Homo sapiens: one gene and its partner. The protein of the gene in region 1 interacts with the protein of each later gene in a biochemical or structural test. Each region holds a gene or a part of one and is shown on either strand. Other genes may lie near its edges.

Region 1 (3,500 bases):
ACACAGCTAAAAAGTGGTATGGCTCAGTTTCAAACTGAGGCGAAGCGGATCCTCTTGCACATTACATGCTCTGTGTGCAATATTGTCTCCCACTGAGAAAACTCAAAACACACAGGAATTCAGAAGTCCAACATTTCAGGCTATGGAATATTCCACTAGATGAACTTGAAGAGTCTCAATGGACCACAAAAGATTTATGAACAAGCTTGAGTTCCCTAAGAGGTGATGTCAATATATCAAATGAAAAGAGATCTGTGTTTACTCTGATTTAACCACTTTGCATTTCTTGGCTGGAGAGAAAGAGGGAGATAGGGGATAGGATTTTGGCTTTCGTTTGTTTTGCAAAATACCACATTGCACATAAGTAATAACTCTTAAGGAGTACTAGAAAGTTCAAGCAAAAATCAGAGAGGAAGAAGCAAGAACAAACACCAGCAGTGAGATTAAACTGAGACAGTGGTGAGGGGTGGGGAAGGATGCAAAAAGCACATAAAGCAGGCCAGGCATGGCAGCTCACACCTGCAATCCCAGCACTTTGGGAGGCCGAGGCTGGTGGATCGCCTGAGCTCAGGAATTCAAGACCAGCCTGAACAACATGGTGAAACCCCATCTCTAGCAATACAAAAATTTAGCCGAGCATTTATGGTCCCAGCTACTTGGGAGGCTGAGGTGGGAGGATGGCTTGAGCCTGGGAGGCAGAGGTTGCAGTGAGCCAAGATTGTGCCGTTGCACTCCAACCTGGGTGACAGAGTGAGACCCCCGTCTCAAAAAAAAAAAAAAAGCTAGATTTCTCTCTTAAAAGGCATCTCTTTATTCTTAGTTTGTTTGGCTCCTCTCCTAAGAGAGTTAGTTACAGCTATTTATCAAGGTGAACTAATATGACTTGGAATTTATTTTGTTTTGCTGCCTTGAGTAAGAGAGAAATGAAAGGGGATTGTTTTCATAGCAAGGGTACCTAACGATAAAGTACACTTCCCAAAGGCTTAAGTGAGAGGTTTGATACAACAGACTAGCTGCTGTTTCTTTAGGGTTATGAGGACTAACAAATGAATGATATGATTTTGCTAAGAGTATTGCATACTGATCATGCAATGAAAAGCCTTATGTCAGAGCTATGGCTGGGCTATTTCACAACCCAACCAAGCATCTAACACAGGAATTCCTTGGGAAACACAGACATCATTTGTACTGTATTCTTCTAGTAACTAACAACGTGTGTGCATTGTTGCTCATCTTGGCTTTTTAGCATGTACTCAATGACCTGCCAGATTTTCCAGGCAACAGTGCAGAATACATTCAGGTTTCATGATGCTATTTCTGCTAATCAGGGCAAATTTTGAAAAACACTATGGCAAACACATGCACATGGAATTAAATTTTCCTCTGGGGACCATGCAGGCAGTTCTTGCAAAAAGACCACATAAATTGAAAATACTAATGCAAGCTACAAAATCAGGTCTGGCTTGTACTTAAAGCACCTTTTGTAAAAAAGAAAAAGAAAATAACTTAGACATGCTCTTTGATAAGCACAGGGAAGAACTGTATTCCAGTGGGGTTGGAATGTCATTTTGCACCTGGTGAGTGTGGAAACTGAACACCATCTTCACTGGCTTTAACACAGTAGGTTTCCCAACAATCACTTGGCCACAGGCCTCTCCATTTTGAGCAATTTCCAACAGTAGGCTTTGGTGTGGTTTAGACCTGGGGCAGGGAATAGGTCTTCTTGGTTTGGGTTCTTTTGTTTGCTATAGCTTGTGAAACACCTAATTGTGAAGTGAATCTTAATTTATTAAAGTTGTTTCTCAAAACTGGTAACAAAGGGTGGAGGAATAATTATGAATGTAAACAAGGAACAGCCAACTCATCTGTGCTAAATGGCAAAACATGTTCTTGATGGTAAGTTGTAGAACATGGGCTCATGTTCTGAACCACGGGCTCAAGTCTGACCCTGCTGCTTCCTGGAGCCAAATGTCTAGATATTTGAGTGCAGTTTGCTCCCTCAGTCCCTCCGAAGGCTGGAGAGTACGGAGGACCCCTGGCAGCAAGGACTAAATCAGAACAGCACATGATGACATGCAGCCTGGGATCTCAGACAACTGGTAAAAGGAAAAAATAAAAATATACCAACCTCACGCGGTTCTATAGTTTTTTAAGAATTCCACAGAGCGAATGCAAGAAATACAACCATGTGATGACATCCCTGGGGCTCAATAAAGTGGGAATTATCCCTGTCCCCATCTACCTTCATATTTACAATTTAGTCTCACCATTTAAAATGTTCTTTTTTATATGTATGTTTGATAAGACAGATAATGTTCATCATTTTAACAACTGCAAACACATAATTAAGTTGTTGTTTCTTATAATAAGCCATTGTTTGTTTCTTTTTGAAACTGTGGAATGGGCTAAAAGCAAAGGGAATTTAATCATAAATCTCTTTGTGTCATTCCCTTCAACTGAAGCCATGTGTTGGCCACTCCCGCCCTAGGTAATTTAAATCCCAGACTCAAGACTTAGGCCCTTTGGGGTCAAGCCCTTGTTTTCTTCACCAGGCCTCTTTCTGGCCACTTCCCTGCCCATCCCTCAACTCTTTCCACACTCTGCTTACTTGCAGCTCCCCCAGTTCCCAACTCTGTTCCTGCTCCAGGCCTTGTATGAGCGCCAATCCCCACCCCTGCAAAACCCCAGCGTCCAACCGCTTTCTTCTAGCTCAGGGGTCTTCACAGGTGAATGCGTGTAACACAATGCATTGGAATGGCAGGAGAACATACTTCACATTTTCTTCATAGTCATATTTTAATTTCATTATTTAAAATACTCCCTTTTGTACGTAACTTTTTATAAGGCACATAATGTATTCGTTTGGTACTGTGTACACATTATATATACAAATAAAATATGGTCCTCTGATCTAGCAAATTCCTGTTCAACCTTCTGAACTCAGCTCCAACGGCCCCTCCCCAGGACACCTCCTCCCGCAGGGTTAACTCATCCCAGGGCATCATTAGCTGTGGGCAGGCACAGAGTACATCAATGAGAGCAGTGCTATGCTCTCCCAACTCATCAGTCTCTCCATCTGGAGGTGAGCTCCATGAGGGCAGGGCACACACTATTCCTATCTGGATGGCTGGCATCTTCTCGTCCTTTAGGTTTCTGTTTACTACTATCTCCTCTTGTCTTTCCTGATAACCCAAGCTAATGATACCCTTTGCTTCTTGGCTGGTATCTGCCATGTGCCATCCTCCCATTTTTTTTTCCTTCATCATACTTCTTCCAATCCAATCTCTAATTATTGTATTCACTTGTTTCTTGTCTGACATCCCCACCAGGACTCAATGACCACAGGGCCTCAGTCTTTCTGGCCTCCATTGTATCTCCTGGCCCTTAGCAAACAGCCTATGTTCAATACTTATTTGTTGAATGAAAGATTTTTGTTTTCTTTTCCTTTAACTACTTTCCTTTTAAGCTAATAAACAAGGAGATGGTCAGGAAAAGAAAAG
Region 2 (3,500 bases), on another chromosome or scaffold:
AGTAACAGGCTTTTTATAAATGGAAATGAGTTTGTCACTGTCGATAATAACCAGTATTTCTCTGGATACTTAAATGTGTAGCTAGAAATTTTGATCAGAGAATTAAAAGTGAGTCATTGGATTTCTGTTGGCTTTTCTTTGATGCTAGGAAATGTCACCATGCACCACTGTTTTTTTATGCTCTGTATAATCAAGAAATAATGTCTGTGTCAGTCTCCTTACATTTGACTCCATAGTGATCTCATTTTTTCTCTAAAACATCGAGAATAAAATTAGGACACTTTGGATTTTTTTCCTCCTGTTTTCATTTTACCCAATTTCTTCAACTATTGAAGGTCAGATTATAAAATAATTTATCATTCTGATGCAGAACTATCAGTTGAGTGAGTTAAATGTATTCTTTTTAATGTGCTTTTTTTAAAATCCATTTCCATCAGAAACTAGAGCTTATTTTTTTTTAAATATATTTCTGTGCTGAGAAACTACTAATATTTTTTATGGCTTATCTACTTAGAAAAACCATAGGTTTGGCCGGGCGTGGTGGCTCACGCCTGTAATCCTAGCACTTTGGGAGGCCAAGACAGGCGGATCACAAGGTCAGGAGATCGAGACCATCCTGGCTAACATGGTGAAACCCCATCTCTACTCAAAATACAAAAAAATTAGCCGGGCATGGTGGCGGACGCCTGTAGTCCCAGCTACTCAGGAGGCTGAGGCAGGAGAATGGCATGAACCTGGGAGATGGAGCTTGCAGTGAGCCGAGATCACACCACTGCACTCCAGCCTGGGTGACAGAGTGAGACTCCATCTCAAAAAAAAAAAAAAAAAAAAAAAAGAAAGAAAAACCATAGGTTTTAGAGAAACATACTATACACTTAAGAAACAGCAAAATGAGGCTGGGTGCTGTGACTCATGCCTGTAATCCTAGCACTTTGGGAGGCCACAGCAGGAGGATCACTTGAGGCCAAGAGTTTCAAGCCCAGCTTGAGCAACAAAGCAAGATGCTATATCTAAAAACAAACAAACAAAAACAAAAAACAAAAACAGGAAAATGAGTTGGATACACTTAAGCAGTAGTTGCTTTTGCAGTTTTCAACCAAATTTATTAATGGTGTTTTTACATGAGCTGCAAAAAAAAAATGGAATATGGTTTTTGGTCTGTGTTTATTATATAGTGATGATGTACAACTTTTTAACTTGTTGATAATTTTCTAATTTTCCTCTTTGTTCAGTGATATTGGGATTGGTCAGTCTCAAGATGACAGCATAGTAGGATTAAGGCAGACAAAGCACATCCCAACTGCATTGCCTGTCAGTGGAACCTTATCATCCAGTAATCCTGATTTATTGCAGTCACATCATCGCATTTTAGACTTCAGTGCTACTCCTGGTGAGTATCACCAACACTTCTTTTGTTTTCTTATAGTTATCTTTTTATTTCTAACATAATGGTCATATTATATGTATCTCTCTTCATTTGGCATGGATTATATCAGATGCTGAGTAAGGATGAAACTTAAACTTTAAGATTTTTGAAATCAGGTGTTGGAACCAGTTCTCTTTACATTCAGCAGAGTATTTTTATATGGCCATAGGCAAATTATCTGTCTGAACTTGTTTCTTCTTTCATAAAATGAAGATAACACATCCCATGCCATGATTACTAAATCATATCAAATAGATAGAGTAAGAGGCATATTTTAGGTCTAATTAATGGACTTTTCAATACAGTAAAGATTAACTCTGGATTTAAATTTTATTTCTTTGATGCCAGCATGACAGTCTTGAGTGCTACTGTTGTGTACTGATGTGCTTGCAGCTGTCTGTAGTTCAATCTGTTATCTTTTAGGGAAAGGTATGTTCTTGCAGCAAAACAGCATGTAGATTGATTCTTTGAGGAAGACCTAGAGTAAGGGAGAGGTAAAAGTTCAGCATTGCTTTTTCTTAAGGAGCTTTTTTCTGATTACTTTGCTTAATTGCATTGCCATATATTAAAATTCTTTCTACTTATGTGTGTGATTTTTCTTTCCCCCAGACTTGCCAGATCAAGTGCTAAGGGTTTTTAAGGCTGATCAGCAAAGCCGCTACATCATGATCAGTAAGGACACTACAGCAAAGGAAGTGGTCATTCAGGCTATCAGGGAGTTTGCTGTTACTGCCACCCCGGATCAATATTCACTATGTGAGGTCTCTGTCACACCTGAGGGAGTAATCAAACAAAGAAGACTTCCAGATCAGCTTTCCAAACTTGCAGACAGAATACAACTGAGTGGAAGGTATATATTATCTACCTTACTGGATTTCTTTGTCCCCTCTTCGAACCCACATCAAAGTCTAAGAGATGAGCAATTTTCAAAGTGTTTTTTAAATGAGTAAGTGTCCCTGCGATTAAAAAGTATTGTTGTTGTTTTTTTTTTCCTTTCACCAAGAATTACTGTATGAAAGCAAATGCACACAGTCGACTACTGACCCTAACAAGGATCTCTTAGGAACTTGTTCAAGGCCACTGTGACCTGAAGGTTGTTACTGACTTCCAAAATGCGTGCTGTAACTTCTCATGCTTGCCTTGGGGTCCTGGTTTGGAAGGGTAGAGTATGCTTGATGTAAAGTCACGGGGTTAAACCCTGGTGCTGTCTTCCCTTTGTATATGTACGTTCACAAACACATTTTCTAATCATATTCTAGTGTCATTTGCTCCTGCATACCCAACTTTTCTAGGAGCTTCCTTAGTTTAGGCAGAGACATCTGTGACAATGTGGTTGGCCACTTCTGCCTGTTATTGTACATTATGCTATGAAATACACTTCTTAACGCTGAAACCAGACTTTACTTGCTACAGAGCTTAGTCCTTTGCTGCAGAAGTGCTTATATCACACGTTACTTGCAAGAAAATGTTGTGTCTGATTTTATCATTCTCTTCAATGATATTTTCACTGTTAGGTATATGTAACTTTATCTTCAAGTCACAATAAGTAAGTGCAAGTTGAAAAAGAAAATAGTTGCTTTGGTTCTCATAGTGGCTGGTTGCTACACTCAAAATTAAGTAGTTCCATAAATCATATTTTTTCTATTTTTAACTTACGGAGTGTTTCACTGTATTTGACTTTTTCATGTTATAGATTTAAACCAGGATATAATTCATTGAAACCTTTGATTTTCTTGCCATCAACTATAACTTTCTTATTCCTCTTCACTTTTGTTTTCAAACACTAGCAAATAGTTTTGTTTTAGTAGCTCTGTTTTTTCCACTTATCATTTCAATGCACATTGATATATCTGGAACCACGATAGAGTTTTACAGAGCTCCACTGAGCTATAGATTCATGATTCACATTCATTATTGAAGAAAATTATAGATGGGTATGTCATGGGCTTCATGAGTAATCAAAATGGAGAATGTTAAATCTGTGAAAGTCAAGGGCGCAAAGTATATATTTTCTGTTATATGTGTTTGCCTTGGTGAAATACACAAAAAAAATTTTAGTAGGGCCCCTACTATG

The links. The genes of interacting proteins can lie anywhere in the genome.
Region 2: the proteins of PDZRN3 (region 1) and RAPGEF2 interact in a test that uses a peptide from one of them, tested with the Homo sapiens proteins (one large-scale study listed by IntAct).

The regions. Positions count from the first base shown.
Region 1 is NC_000003.12:73,604,442-73,607,941, forward strand, and holds part of PDZRN3 (E3 ubiquitin-protein ligase PDZRN3), read right to left. Parts: intron 1-3,500. UniProt on the Homo sapiens protein: E3 ubiquitin-protein ligase. Plays an important role in regulating the surface level of MUSK on myotubes. Mediates the ubiquitination of MUSK, promoting its endocytosis and lysosomal degradation. Might contribute to terminal myogenic differentiation.
Region 2 is NC_000004.12:159,337,079-159,340,578, forward strand, and holds part of RAPGEF2 (rap guanine nucleotide exchange factor 2), read left to right. Parts: intron 1-1,232; coding exon 1,233-1,390; intron 1,391-2,035; coding exon 2,036-2,276; intron 2,277-3,500. UniProt on the Homo sapiens protein: Functions as a guanine nucleotide exchange factor (GEF), which activates Rap and Ras family of small GTPases by exchanging bound GDP for free GTP in a cAMP-dependent manner.